2 linked regions of the Homo sapiens genome follow. The protein of the gene in region 2 purifies or fractionates together with the protein of the main gene of each other region. This does not show direct contact. Each region holds a gene or a part of one and is shown on either strand. Other genes may lie near its edges.

Region 1 (7,026 bases), on a different chromosome or scaffold from region 2:
AGCCAAGAGAAAATGGCATTGCTCAGAGCCTGACACACCAAAGACATCCCACAAATAGTTACTAACAAAAAAGAAAAGAAGGTAGCATCCCTATGACAGTATTTTTTTAAATAAGAATGTATTTATCTTATTTCAATAGCTTTTGGGGGTACATGTGGTTTTTGGTTACATGGATGAGTGATATAGCAGTGAATTCTGAGATTTTAGTGTACCCATCCATGACAGTATGTATTGGAATAGGAAGGTTGGAGAACACCAACTAGTTCTGTAACTACTTCAGCAAAACTATTTGCTGTTGTATACCCAGAAAATTAAAAGAAGGAAATAATAAGAGAATGTTGAACTCTAATAGGATGTCTTCCCCCTCCCTCTCCACTCTAGAGGGCCAGGAAGCAGTTTGGGACAATATCTGTGGGATCTTTTGTTTTGAAGGCCACATACTATTGGCTTTCCCTTCTCTCTCACATTTTTCACCTTCTCTGTTCTCTAGAGCCATAAATAATAAAAATAGCACCTTGTAGAAACTTTACATTTTTCAGTGGTTCCCACATACCATACATTTAAGAGACGAAATAGCTATTTGCCATGTGTCCTTCTCCTGTGCATATTCCTGACAGCTTCTGAGGTCTAGACACTGGGGAAGGCTTCTGGAGTATGGGGCAGGCTACCAGTTTCTTCTAGATAACCCAGAATGACTCATAGGTTGTACCAACTACACATTTTGGCAATTCATATCAGACATAAAGTTTCTAATTAAAATGTTAATCAGTATGTATTTGAAATCATGTAACTCAAATAATGTTAAATTTTTTGAAACAATATAGCAATAAGGCAAAAAGTACAAATAAATCAATATTTAAATATAATAAAAAATAATGCATTAAATGTATTAAATAATACAAATTTTTAAATAAGGCATTAAAAAATACAATAAATCTCATGGCCTACGTGTCACAGAAGTGATTTAAGAGAGGAAAAATAAGCTAGAAAACCAAATACTGCATGTTCTCACTTTAACTGGGAGCTAAACAATGGTGCACATGGACATAAAGATGACGATGGTAGACACTGGGGACTACTAGAAGGGGAAGGGAAGGGAGTAGACAAGGGCTGAAAAACTATAGGGTACTATACTCACTACCTGGGTGATGGCATCAGTTGTTCCCCAAACCTCAGCATCAGACAATATACCCATGTAAAACCTGCACATGTACCCCTTGAATCTAAAATAAAATTGAAATTATAAAACAGAGAGAGAAAAAAAAAGTTTATGTAGCCTAATGTGGTAGTAATCTTAATTGTGATGATGAGGATGACACTGATGATAATTGTGGGTGGTCAAAGGAAATAAATAATAAAAAAGTATAATTTACCGCTGTTCTAAGTGATTTACCTCCATGCATTCATTTAATTCTTCAAACAACCCTGTAAATTAGGTAGCATTATTCCAGTTTAAAAGATGAGAAAACTGAATCAGACAAAACAATTTTCCCACGGCGCAACTTAGCCAGAAGTGCTGGAAGCAGGGAAGCTTTTGCTTTAAACTACTTTGTACTTTTCTCAGAAAGAAGTAAAGGGATCTGTGTTCTTGTCTCAGCAGTGAAACTGCCATGACCCTTGGCAGGTCAGTTAATCTCTATAGGTGTCAGTCTTCTTTATGGATAAAATAAGGATGAGCCTAAAACACCTCCAAGATTCTACAAATGTTATATGACTCCAGAAACAGATGTAGATACAAAGCAATAGGATGTAACTGCTGTTTGTACACCAAGTTTTAGTATCATGCATTGGTTTGGATGTCAATTTTACACAACTTACTACTATGCCTATTTGACTATACAAAAATAGGGATAACGATGTTTACCATCTACCTTTTTCAAAGATAATCTCTTTGGATTAAATAAAATCTGTTCAAAGTAACATATTCTGATGTGTTTGAAAAGTTTAATATGGGGTTCCTGTTTCAGAGTCAACTTAGGTTTGCGTAAGTAATTGGTGCTAAATAGGGCAATCTTCATCAACTAGTTTTCTTGTATAATATCATGTTTTCATATGCAGCCTACCTGCTATTAACATGGAAGAGTTACATGAGGGTTGTGCATAACTTCTACTTAACTAATTTTTTTCTTGGCTTTCCTTTTTGATAAAAGAAAATGAAGGTTTTGCCTTTATCCTTCCTGGACCATCAAGACTTCCAAATTTCTTCAGTAGGAAACTGCCAGACTTTTTCCCTGGCAGAACAATCAGTTCCCTGCTTGTTAGTGGACTTCTGTTTTCTGGGTGGCAGACCCTAGCGGCTGACAAAATTAACGCCATGCCCAACCCCCTTTCTTTCTCCCTTGTCGTTTCTATTGTAGTGGTGGGCAAAGCAAATATTTGCTTTCCCAGACTCCGCTGTATTGAGGTGTAGTCATATGACCCAGGTTTTGGGGAAAGACACTGTGTTCTAGATACAAAGGAGAGTCACGAGAAGAGAGCTAGCTGGCATCACTCAATCTCCTTTCTTCATGATTTGAACACACACGCAGTGTTTGAGACTGCGGCAGCCATTCTGCATCCTTGAGAAAGATACAGCTATAAAGTCAATAGGGGGAGATCAAAGAATGAAAATATATGAAGAACCCAGTTCCTTGATATAATCACTGGCTCAATGAACAAGCTCTATATTGGGTCACCCACAGAGCTGTTTTTCATGTGAGGAAAATAAATCCCTCTTTGAATGAACTACTATTAATCTGATATATGTTACTTGTGGCTGGAAGCAATCCTCGCTGGCATCAGATTTAAGAACTTTGTGTATTTAAGAAATACATATATTTCTCTTAATATAGAGAAAGCTATACAAACCTTTTTGGATTAGATTAATAAATCTAAAAGTATTCATGTAAAAAATACAACATAAATGGTATAAACACATATAAGTGATGATATGAGAGGAGGAACACTCTTTACTTTTGCTAGAGCCTATTTGTTCCCTAACACTTTATGTCTATAACATGCTTATGACTGTGCCAGGTCAGAGATGCATGGCTGTTGCCACTCTGCTGTCATGCAGGAATTGCTAATCAATAACAGCACTCTCCCTCTAACCCAGAGCCAGCCTCAGACACATTGTTTCGCAACCACAGGGAGTCTGTTAAAATTGACACTCAAAAGGAAAGCTATTTGCCTTCTCTGTTTTAGGTTCCTTTTGTTTTCCTTTCTTTTCTTTTTCATTACAGTTATTTATTTTATTATTTCCTCATCACGAGCCTATGGTAGGTATAATACAGCAAACAGTATCCGCTGGCTTCCTTCATTGGTGTCACAATCATTCCCCAAGTGACCCCTATGGAGTCCAGTGACCAAGGAATCCATGGGTAGAATTCAGGGATCCATGAACTTGGATGGGGGAAAAATACATCTTTATTTAAACCTTTAACTCAAATTGAGTATTTCCTTTGATGATGAGTATAAGCAACAAACCACAATACTATTAGTAGTATTTGTGACTGTCACTAATAGAAATTATAGATACTTTTCTATCGCATTTCAGTTGTAGATAGCTCAAAGTGCCATTTACATTCATTGCAACTTCAAAATATCTGCTGTTAGACATTTACCTACCTCTAGATCCATTTAAGGGTTTAATTTAAAAAGCATATTATATCATAGATTTTTAAATAGCTTGGTAGCAGTATTTAATTGGTTTCCTGTGTAATCCTATATATTTTATTTTACTCATTTAAAAACATGATGCTGAGAAGGAATGAAGGCTTTACCAGACTGCCAAAGGGATGTATGGCACAAAGGTTTAAGGAATTATGCTTGAATTTCATTGTCTACATAGATGACATTTATTGAGCTGACTGTGCGCTTGGCATTATTTTAAGCATTCTCATAGTCCCACTGTGGAGCAGGCAGTACCCCATCCTACAGATTACAACACTGGGGCACAGAAAAGTGAAATAATTAGTCCAAGGTTTCAGGTAAATAGTAGAGCTATGAATGAACTCAGGCTACCTGTCCACAAAGCATGAACTTTTTTTTTTTTTTATACTTTAAGTTCTAGGGTACATGTGCACAACGTGCAGGTTTGTTACATATGTATACATGTGCCATGTTGGTCTGCTGCACCCATTAACTCGTCATTTACATTAGGTATATCTCCTAATGCTATCCCTCCCCCCTCCCCCTACCCCACAAGAGGCCCCGGTGTGTGATGTTCCCCTTCCTGTATCCAAGTGTTCTCATTGTTCAATTCCCACCTATAAGTGAGAACATGTGGTGTTTGGTTTTCTGTCCTTCCAATAGTTTGCTAAGAATGACGGTTTCCAGCTTCATCCATGTCCCTACAAAGGACATGAACTCATCCTTTTTTATGGCTGCATAGTATTCCATGGTGTATATGTGCCACGTTTTCTTAATCCAGTCTATCATTGACGGACATTTGGGTTGGTTCCAAGTCTTTGCTATTGTGAATAGAAAGCATGAACTCTTAACCAACAGTCATTAGCATGAAATCAATCTCAGTGTCTTTCATTCAGGAAACAGCAGTACCCATCCAGAGTAGAATGAGACCAGGGGCTGCTAGCTATTATCTGGCCTCATGGCAGGTAGCAGTAAGGGTGTACCATGCTACGGTGCCAATATGCCCCTAAGCAAAGTGGGAACACAGTGTTACTATCAGGAGTTTCTTTGTGCCATACTTCTCTGCTTTTGAAATTTACATACAACTGCTGGGGCTTTATCTCCTATGTGCAAGTGATATACAAGCCAGGGCTTTATCTTTTATGTATAGCCTTGTAAAAACCCTTTGGAATTCACCCCTTGGGCTCTGGCAATACTTGCACTAAGTAACTAAGAATCTGTGCTTAGGCCTGTAAACCTAGGGAAAATTTGCTCCACTGGCAGAGAAGCTAGAAGACTGTGGGGAGCTGGGGCAAACTGTATTTGGAATCAGGAGACCTGGCTGAGGCGACAGGTTCAGCACTAATTATTCATTAATTATATTATTCAATATTTATATTATTCTGTTGAACTAACTAGTTAACCTCTCTAACCTCAGTATTTACAGTTATAATGTAAAAGGGAAGATATCTATGAAGACTGGATGAAGGCATAAAAGTAAAAGAGCTTTCTTTCCAAATATCAGTAAATGTACGTTTTGGTTTAATATAAAGAAATTTGGCAGGGCTCAGTAGCTCATACCCATAATCCCAGTGCTTTGGGAAGTTGATGCGGTAGGATCACTTATGGCTAGAAGTTTGAGATCAGCCTGGGCAACACAGCAAGACCCCCATCTCTACAAAAAAATTTTTTTGTTTTTTTTTTTTTGAGACAGAGTCTCGCTCTGTTGCCAGGCTGGAGTGCAATGGCTCACTGCAACCTCCGCCTCCCGGGTTCAAGTGATTCTCCTGCCTCAGCCTCCTGAGTAGCTGGGATTACAGGCATGTGCCACCGTGCCTGGCTAATTTTGTATTTTTAGTAGAGATGGGGTTTCACCATGTTGGTCAGGCTGGTCTTGAACTCCCGACCTCAGGTATCCACCCGCCTCAGCCTCCCAAAGTGCTGGGATTATAGTAATGAGCCACCGTGCCCGGCCATGTTTTTTTAATTAGCCAGGTGTAGTGGTGCATGCCTATAGTCCTCACTGCTTAGGAGGCTGAGGTGGGAGGATTGCTTGAGCCCAGGTGTTCTGGGTTACAATGAGCTATGATTGTGCTGCTGCACTCCAGCCTGGGTGACAGAGCAAGAACCTGCCTTGAAGAAAAAAGAAAAAAAGAAAGAAAATATTTTTTAAAAGATAGATTAAAAAAATAAATAAAGAAGTTTTTACACTTTTGACACACTGACTGACCAGCACACAAGAGTTACATAATAAATGATTTAAAGGATGGTGGTTTAAAAAAAAAAAAAAGGGAAAAAGGCTGCTCTTTCAGAAGTAGAAACAGACCACATAGCTTCTTGTGGGAATTGTCATAAAAGGTGCGAGGCAGCAAGCAGAACATTCACATGGGTACTCTGGGGGTTCCTGCCCACGCTTAGGTCTCTGATGCACTCAAGCCTCATGATTCATCCATGGCTGTGTACCTTGACACCAGGAACTGGCCTGGGAATATTTGTATACTGTTATTTTCCCCTTTATTGCTCAACTAGGGAGGGGTGGAAAAGGAGGGTGTGGAATCCCAGTTACAGTTCAGAAGAAGAAAGACAACTTTGATGGCATTTATCCCTCTGGGACATCCTTATACTAAAAATTGAAGTGGGCAACCTGGGGAGAGAAATAACTTGATTGCCAAAGTACCATCTCTAAATATTGAATAATCAAACAGTAGGCATCAGATTAAAGCAAAAATCAAACATAAAGCCTCTGTTCCTTCAACTTCCTCTGAAGAGCCTTTCCTTATGGGGAGGTGGGAACATGCTTTTTTTCTTTTTTTTTTGAGGGAGTCTTTCTCTGTTGTCCAGGCTGGAGTCCAGTGGCTCAATCTTGGCTCACTGCAACCTCTACCTCTGGGGTTCAAGCAATTCTCCTGACTCAGCCTCCCAAGTAGCTGGGATTACAGGGATGCACCACCACACCTGGCTAATTTTTGTATTTTTATTAGAGACGGGGTTTCACCATGTTGGCCAGGCTGGTCTTGAACCCCTGACCTCTAGTGATCTGCCCGCCTCAGCCTCCCAAAGTGCTGGGATTACAGACGTGAGCCACTGTGTCCGGCCAAACATGCTCCTTTTTAAAACAGACTCAAAGGGTCACCAAATTCTGACAGAAGGCACTCGAACATATGATAAAATACAGGGTACCCAGTGATATTTTAATTTGAGATAAACAATGAATGATATTTTAGTATAATTATGTCCCAAATTCCACGCTTAATGCTAAAAGTATGGTATAAGTATTTCATGCTTATACTAAAAAAAAAAAAAAAAATCCATGTGAAATTCAAAGTTAACTGGGTAGCCTACATTTTTCTTTGCTAAATCCAGCCACCCACCACCTACCCCAACATTCTCACGTCAGCCCATTTGGGGCTCCACATA
Region 2 (7,026 bases):
ACCAACCACTTTGGCTCCACCTATTCACATAAGGCCAGGCTCACCGTGAATGGTATGGAAACACCATCTTTGTTATAGTACCAGAATCCTACAAAGCACACTCCTGATTGCCCTTTCAGCTTTCCATGTAGAGATGACTGAGACAGGACACACACATGCTTCTGTGGGGCACTGTTAAATCCTATTGTTGCCTGGGTTTGCCCCAGAGCAAGTTTTGCAGATTTCAAGGGTTATTCACAATGAGTTACTTGTTTTTGGTGAGTTTTAAAAATCTAGTTATTGGCCGGGTGCTGTGGCTCATGCCTGTAATCCCAGCAGTTGGGAGACTGAGGTGGGCAGATCACTTGAAGCCAGGAGTTCGAGACTAGTGTGGCCAACATAGTGAAACCCCGTCTCTACTAAAAATACAAAAATTAGCCAGGTGTGGTGGCACATGCCTGTAATCCCAGCTACTTGGGAGGCTGAGGCACAAGAATTGCTTGAACCCAGGAGGTGGACGTTGCAGTGAGCCGAGATCACTCCACTGCATTCCAGCCTGGGTGTCAAAGTGAGACTGTCTCAAAAACAAAACAAAAACTAGTTATTAAGTCAAATTGTGGAGAGCTAAGCCTTGTTTTGTCCAGTTCTTATCCTCTATAAGCCAAGAGATCTGGCTTCCAAATTCCAAATACCCCTTAGCCTGGGGAAGCTGCTGTTCTTTGAGTAGATGGCACAGCATTGGAGTCAGAGGCTAGCTACTGCTCCAGAGACTGTGGAGTGCAAGGCTGGTGTGAGCCCTGGCCTGAAAGACACAGTGTCCTGGCAGTTGACAGGTTTTTACTCATTAACCAGCCTTGGAGCTTGTCAAGGGGACCATGTGTTATTGTGTGTTTGGAGGAGGGGGGTGGGGAGTAGATAGCTTGAAGAGTTTACTGTCCCACCCCAGTAACCTAATGGGGTTATCCTGATTACTAACTCTCTAGTTAAAAAGAATTGGCTTGAGAATCATCAGAATGGTGGATCTGCTTTGCTCTTTAAGCCCCCACAGATCACAGCGAAACACCTTCTTTACCACACTGTAGTGGGGTTGTCTTGGCTTATTCCAAGTCCTCACAGCTTCCGAAAGACTCAGCTGTTTGTTAGACTCTCCCCAAAATTGACGTTGACAGGAACTCTGGTGGTGCCTGACACGTGGCTGGATGCGTCCCACTCTGTCAGGACATCGATCTTTAGGCTGAGCAAGCTAGCAAGCTGAATGCTTCCTGCCTGGGTATACGGCAGTGGGCAGGAACAGCCTGGGTGAACAACCATCCAAATGGATGAGCCATCCCATTCATCCCATGAACACCCATCCAAACGGATGAGCCATCCCATTGCTCTCCCAAGGTGGAGGCATGCCCACCTTCCCTCTGTAATTCCATCTCCACAGCCTCTCTCTTGGTGGGTAAAGCAGGCAAGCATCAGGCCTACCTAGTGTGGATGGGCACCCCCTGCAACTCCCGTATAGGCACTGCCATGTAGAGTAAAAGCCTTTGCTTTGAAGGGACTATAGCCAGCCTAGGGTGTACAATGCAAGGCTGATGGGATGGAAGTGTTCCAACTGTGGTGGGAGAAGCTGGGGGTTCCTGATTCACAGGTGGCAGGAGTGGTCCTGGGCAGACATTGGGAGAAAAGAAGTGAACTGGCACTGGGCACAGTGACAGGTAGGTGTTTGCCAGAGGACTTCCTGGTTTTGCATCTAGCTGTCCCGTAACCCGACCCTGTATACGTATGTTTTCCAGTGTTGCCATCATTCACCAAAACGCCCCACGACATAACCATCCGGACCACCACCATGGCCCGCCTCGAATGTGCTGCCACAGGTCACCCAAACCCTCAGATTGCCTGGCAGAAGGATGGAGGCACGGATTTCCCCGCTGCCCGTGAGCGACGCATGCATGTCATGCCGGATGACGACGTGTTTTTCATCACTGATGTGAAAATAGATGACGCAGGGGTTTACAGCTGTACTGCTCAGAACTCAGCCGGTTCTATTTCAGCTAATGCCACCCTGACTGTCCTAGGTTTGCCTATTGCTCTACTGTGTGTGTGTGTGTGTGTGTGTGAGCGAGAGAGAGAGACTCTCAAATGCTCTGTGTGGCCAGGGGTGGTATGCGTTGTGGGCCTTTCGACCCTGTTTGAAATTTGGGGCTGCTTTTTGAGTTGAGTTAATTTTTCTTAAACAAGTGTTTCTATCTCTTTAAAAGAAATGATAGCTGGTGAATTAAGAGTCTTCATAGGGTTTAGCTACAGAACATTTTAAGAATTGGACAGGATGGATGTGGGCTTGGTCAAGAGCTACAGAACATTTTAAGAATTGGACAGGATGGATGTGGGCTTGGTCAAGAATAAGGACACAGGCCTGACACAGGACAGTTAGGGAATAGCAGGGGCTTTTGTCAGCAGAGGTTCACTGTCCCTGTGGAAGCCACTCCCAGCATGGAGATGACTCAGTCAATGAGTTGAAGGGTCTTCTCCAAAGCTTGCCACTCTGAGACAGAATCTCAGATGCATCTCATTGATATGTTGGATTGTCCGTTGTCCAGAAGACCGGGCAGAGCCAGAGCAACGGAGGCCCTGAGAATGACTAAGATCTCTGTTGCTCTCTTGTAGAGACCCCATCCTTGGTGGTCCCCTTGGAAGACCGTGTGGTATCTGTGGGAGAAACAGTGGCCCTCCAATGCAAAGCCACGGGGAACCCTCCGCCCCGCATCACCTGGTTCAAGGGGGACCGCCCGCTGAGCCTCACTGAGCGGCACCACTTGACCCCTGACAACCAGCTCCTGGTGGTTCAGAACGTGGTGGCAGAGGATGCGGGCCGATATACCTGTGAGATGTCCAACACCCTGGGCACGGAGCGAGCTCACAGCCAGCTGAGCGTCCTGCCCGCAGCAGGCTGCAGGAAGGATGGGACCACGGTAGGCATCTTCACCATTGCTGTCGTGAGCAGCATCGTCCTGACGTCACTGGTCTGGGTGTGCATCATCTACCAGACCAGGAAGAAGAGTGAAGAGTACAGTGTCACCAACACAGGTCAGGCCCTGCCAGCGGAGCTGACTTTCAAGGAGGGAGGAATGGCAGTGATGCTGGGGAACTGGGCCGGGTTCCAGTGGCTTTTGAAAGAATTGCACTGTGTTCAGAACTCCTGAGGGTTTAGTCCCACTAATTCCATTTTAACTTTGAGGAACTTAACCTTAAACAGGAATACTCTCAAATTTAACCTTAAACAGGAATACTCACAAATACAAGTAACTGACGCACCATGCAGTTTTCCCTCTCCTTGCTAACTCAGAGGCCGCCTATGCACAGGCCCTGCTGCCACGTAGTAGGTTGTTCCTGAAACAGTGCGGTACTTCTGTGAGCCCCGGCTTTCCATCACTGGTCTCCACTTCTTGTGGCGTCTGGCATCTGCTGGCTGCGCTCTTCACGCTGGGTGTAGAGTAAAGCTGAGCAGGCTCTGGGAGGGCCTGTTGCGTACATGGACTCCATGTCATCTCTCTGCACAGCGCTGATGGTCGTCACTGGGAGGATCCCCTTTCTGAGCTTGACAGTGAACGTGTGTCTGCATTTCTTGTCACTGAGACCCTGGTGTTCTATTTGTTCTGTCTCCTTGCAGATGAAACCGTCGTGCCACCAGATGTTCCAAGCTACCTCTCTTCTCAGGGGACCCTTTCTGACCGACAAGAAACCGTGGTCAGGACCGAGGGTGGCCCTCAGGCCAATGGGCACATTGAGAGCAATGGTAAGGCCTCAGTAACTGTGAAGCAGAGCTCTGCTGTGACTGTGTCTCTGGGTGCTGGAGGTGGCCTCCAGGTCTTTACAGGGCAGGTACCTGGCATTAGATGGGGCAAACTTGGTGAAGTAGAAGGCGGTATGACTAAGGGCTGCTATTTTGGACCCAGTCTTCATGAGTTCTGCAAGGTTTTAAAGTCCTGTCCCCTCAGGAAGCCACTGGATTGGGCTTAGCATCTCCCTGGCAGGATAAAGTAGGCTTGCCTGGAGTAGCAGCTGGAAAGGGCATTACGGTGCATGAACCCAGCCAACCCATTCCTTACATGGGGAACGTGCCCAGGTCTGCTCTGTGATCCAGTCTTACACTGGAAAGCTGTCACCAGGATGAGGTACTTCCAACGGTGGGGGCCTCTGAGCACTTGCCTGAGACTGTAGAGGCTCACCCTGAGACAGCTGCTCATTTCACAAGGCCAGCCTGCCTGCTGGGAAGTAGTAGCAGAAAACACGCTGCTTGCCAGACCAGCAGCCCCACCGCTCTGAAGAACTTTTTAAAAAAAATGACTGTTCTAGCGGCCTTGCTCATTCCTTTCATAAGGCTTACTGTGAAATACCAAGCCCAGAGTTTCTAATCGTGTTGGAATCCACTTGCAGGTGTGTGTCCAAGAGATGCAAGCCACTTTCCAGAGCCCGACACTCACAGCGTTGCCTGCAGGCAGCCAAAGCTCTGTGCTGGGTCTGCGTATCACAAAGAGCCGTGGAAAGCGATGGAGAAAGCTGAAGGGACACCTGGGCCACATAAGATGGGTATGAGATGCTTCCCATTGGAAGTAGTTTCTTTCTGAAATGGAAATTTGGGCTGACCTAGTCACTACATCAAAGGGGGAGACACATTCCTAGTCCACAGCTGTCTCCAAATTTGGTATTCAGTATATACAGGGGAAGCTCAGGCCTGGCTCTCTTAATTCCAGGATAGTTTCTCCTAAATAAATCTACGCCATGGTAAGCCTGAGCATGAATTTTCTAGATGTATAAGCAACTTAAATAAGGGGCAAGGCACAAACGAAGTATAGAGTTTCAGTCAGCACTTTTTCACCAGGGCTATTTTGAGGCTTATTTCTAATTGTTGAAAAGACCCAACACTGCATGGTACCTAAGGCTAATGGCTTTTCCCCCGTGAAGCAGTAAGACTACATTGTCTATGAAATTCACTGTAAACACGAAAGACCCCACAGTTCATGAGTGACTTGGTGTTTGCCCAGTCCTTTCTCTGGGGACATAGTTGGGGAAAAGAGGAAGCATGCATACAGTGTTTGCAGTCAGGGTTCTCACCTTGCACAGTGGAGCTGAGCAGCCTGTCCTCTGTGTGGGGACGAAGACTCCCACAGCAGTGACTCTAACCCATCTTTGGCGCTGTCCTTCAGAACACGGTGGCCGGGTCGTATGCAGTGACTGCAACACCGAAGTGGACTGTTACTCCAGGGGACAAGCCTTCCACCCCCAGCCTGTGTCCAGAGACAGCGCACAGCCAAGTGCGCCAAATGGCCCGGAGCCGGGTGGGAGTGACCAAGAGCATTCTCCACATCACCAGTGCAGCAGGACTGCCGCTGGGTCCTGCCCCGAGTGCCAAGGGTCGCTCTACCCCAGTAACCACGATAGAATGCTGACGGCTGTGAAGAAAAAGCCAATGGCATCTCTAGATGGGAAAGGTAACTTTTGACTGTCTTCTAACAGGTGGGTTGGGAGCTGCTTAAACGGTCAAGTGGGGGTCTGACAGGTTCGTTCTTTCCTTGTAGGGGATTCTTCCTGGACTTTAGCAAGGTTGTATCACCCGGACTCCACAGAGCTACAGCCTGCATCTTCATTAACTTCAGGCAGTCCAGAGCGCGCGGAAGCCCAGTACTTGCTTGTTTCCAATGGCCACCTCCCCAAAGCATGTGACGCCAGTCCCGAGTCCACGCCACTGACAGGACAGCTCCCCGGGAAACAGAGGGTGCCACTGCTGTTGGCACCAAAAAGCTAGGTTTTGTCTACCTCAGTTCTTGTCATACCAATCTCTACGGGAAAGAGAGGTAGGAGAGGCTGCGAGGAAGCTTGGGTTCAAGCGTCACTCATCTGTACATAGTTGTAACTCCCATGTGGAGTATCAGTCGCTCACAGGACTTGGATCTGAAGCACAGTAAACGCAAGAGGGGATTTGTGTACAAAAGGCAAAAAAAGTATTTGATATCATTGTACATAAGAGTTTTCAGAGATTTCATATATATCTTTTACAGAGGCTATTTTAATCTTTAGTGCATGGTTAACAGAAAAAAATTATACAATTTTGACAATATTATTTTTCGTATCAGGTTGCTGTTTAATTTTGGAGGGGGTGGGGAAATAGTTCTGGTGCCTTAACGCATGGCTGGAATTTATAGAGGCTACAACCACATTTGTTCACAGGAGTTTTTGGTGCGGGGTGGGAAGGATGGAAGGCCTTGGATTTATATTGCACTTCATAGACCCCTAGGCTGCTGTGCGGTGGGACTCCACATGCGCCGGAAGGAGCTTCAGGTGAGCACTGCTCATGTGTGGATGCCCCTGCAACAGGCTTCCCTGTCTGTAGAGCCAGGGGTGCAAGTGCCATCCACACTTGCAGTGAATGGCTTTTCCTTTTAGGTTTAAGTCCTGTCTGTCTGTAAGGCGTAGAATCTGTCCGTCTGTAAGGCGTAGAATGAGGGTTGTTAATCCATCACAAGCAAAAGGTCAGAACAGTTAAACACTGCCTTTCCTCCTCCTCTTATTTTATGATAAAAGCAAATGTGGCCTTCTCAGTATCATTCGATTGCTATTTGAGACTTTTAAATTAAGGTAAAGGCTGCTGGTGTTGGTACCTGTGGATTTTTCTATACTGATGTTTTCGTTTTGCCAATATAATGAGTATTACATTGGCCTTGGGGGACAGAAAGGAGGAAGTTCTGACTTTTCAGGGCTACCTTATTTCTACTAAGGACCCAGAGCAGGCCTGTCCATGCCATTCCTTCGCACAGATGAAACTGAGCTGGGACTGGAAAGGACAGCCCTTGACCTGGGTTCTGGGTATAATTTGCACTTTTGAGACTGGTAGCTAACCATCTTATGAGTGCCAATGTGTCATTTAGTAAAACTTAAATAGAAACAAGGTCCTTCAAATGTTCCTTTGGCCAAAAGCTGAAGGGAGTTACTGAGAAAATAGTTAACAATTACTGTCAGGTGTCATCACTGTTCAAAAGGTAAGCACATTTAGAATTTTGTTCT

Evidence for each region.
Region 1: the proteins of LRIG1 (region 2) and PON2 purify together in Homo sapiens (affinity purification with mass spectrometry; 3 studies listed by BioGRID and IntAct, with this or other methods). This does not show direct contact.

The regions. Positions count from the first base shown.
Region 1 is NC_000007.14:95,425,015-95,432,040, forward strand, and holds part of PON2 (serum paraoxonase/arylesterase 2), read right to left. Parts: intron 1-7,026. UniProt on the Homo sapiens protein: Capable of hydrolyzing lactones and a number of aromatic carboxylic acid esters. Has antioxidant activity. Is not associated with high density lipoprotein.
Region 2 is NC_000003.12:66,379,007-66,386,032, reverse strand, and holds part of LRIG1 (leucine-rich repeats and immunoglobulin-like domains protein 1 isoform 1 precursor), read left to right. Parts: coding exon 1-52; intron 53-1,760; coding exon 1,761-2,042; intron 2,043-2,631; coding exon 2,632-3,051; intron 3,052-3,634; coding exon 3,635-3,760; intron 3,761-4,401; coding exon 4,402-4,554; intron 4,555-5,171; coding exon 5,172-5,456; intron 5,457-5,543; coding exon 5,544-5,770; 3' UTR 5,771-7,026. UniProt on the Homo sapiens protein: Acts as a feedback negative regulator of signaling by receptor tyrosine kinases, through a mechanism that involves enhancement of receptor ubiquitination and accelerated intracellular degradation.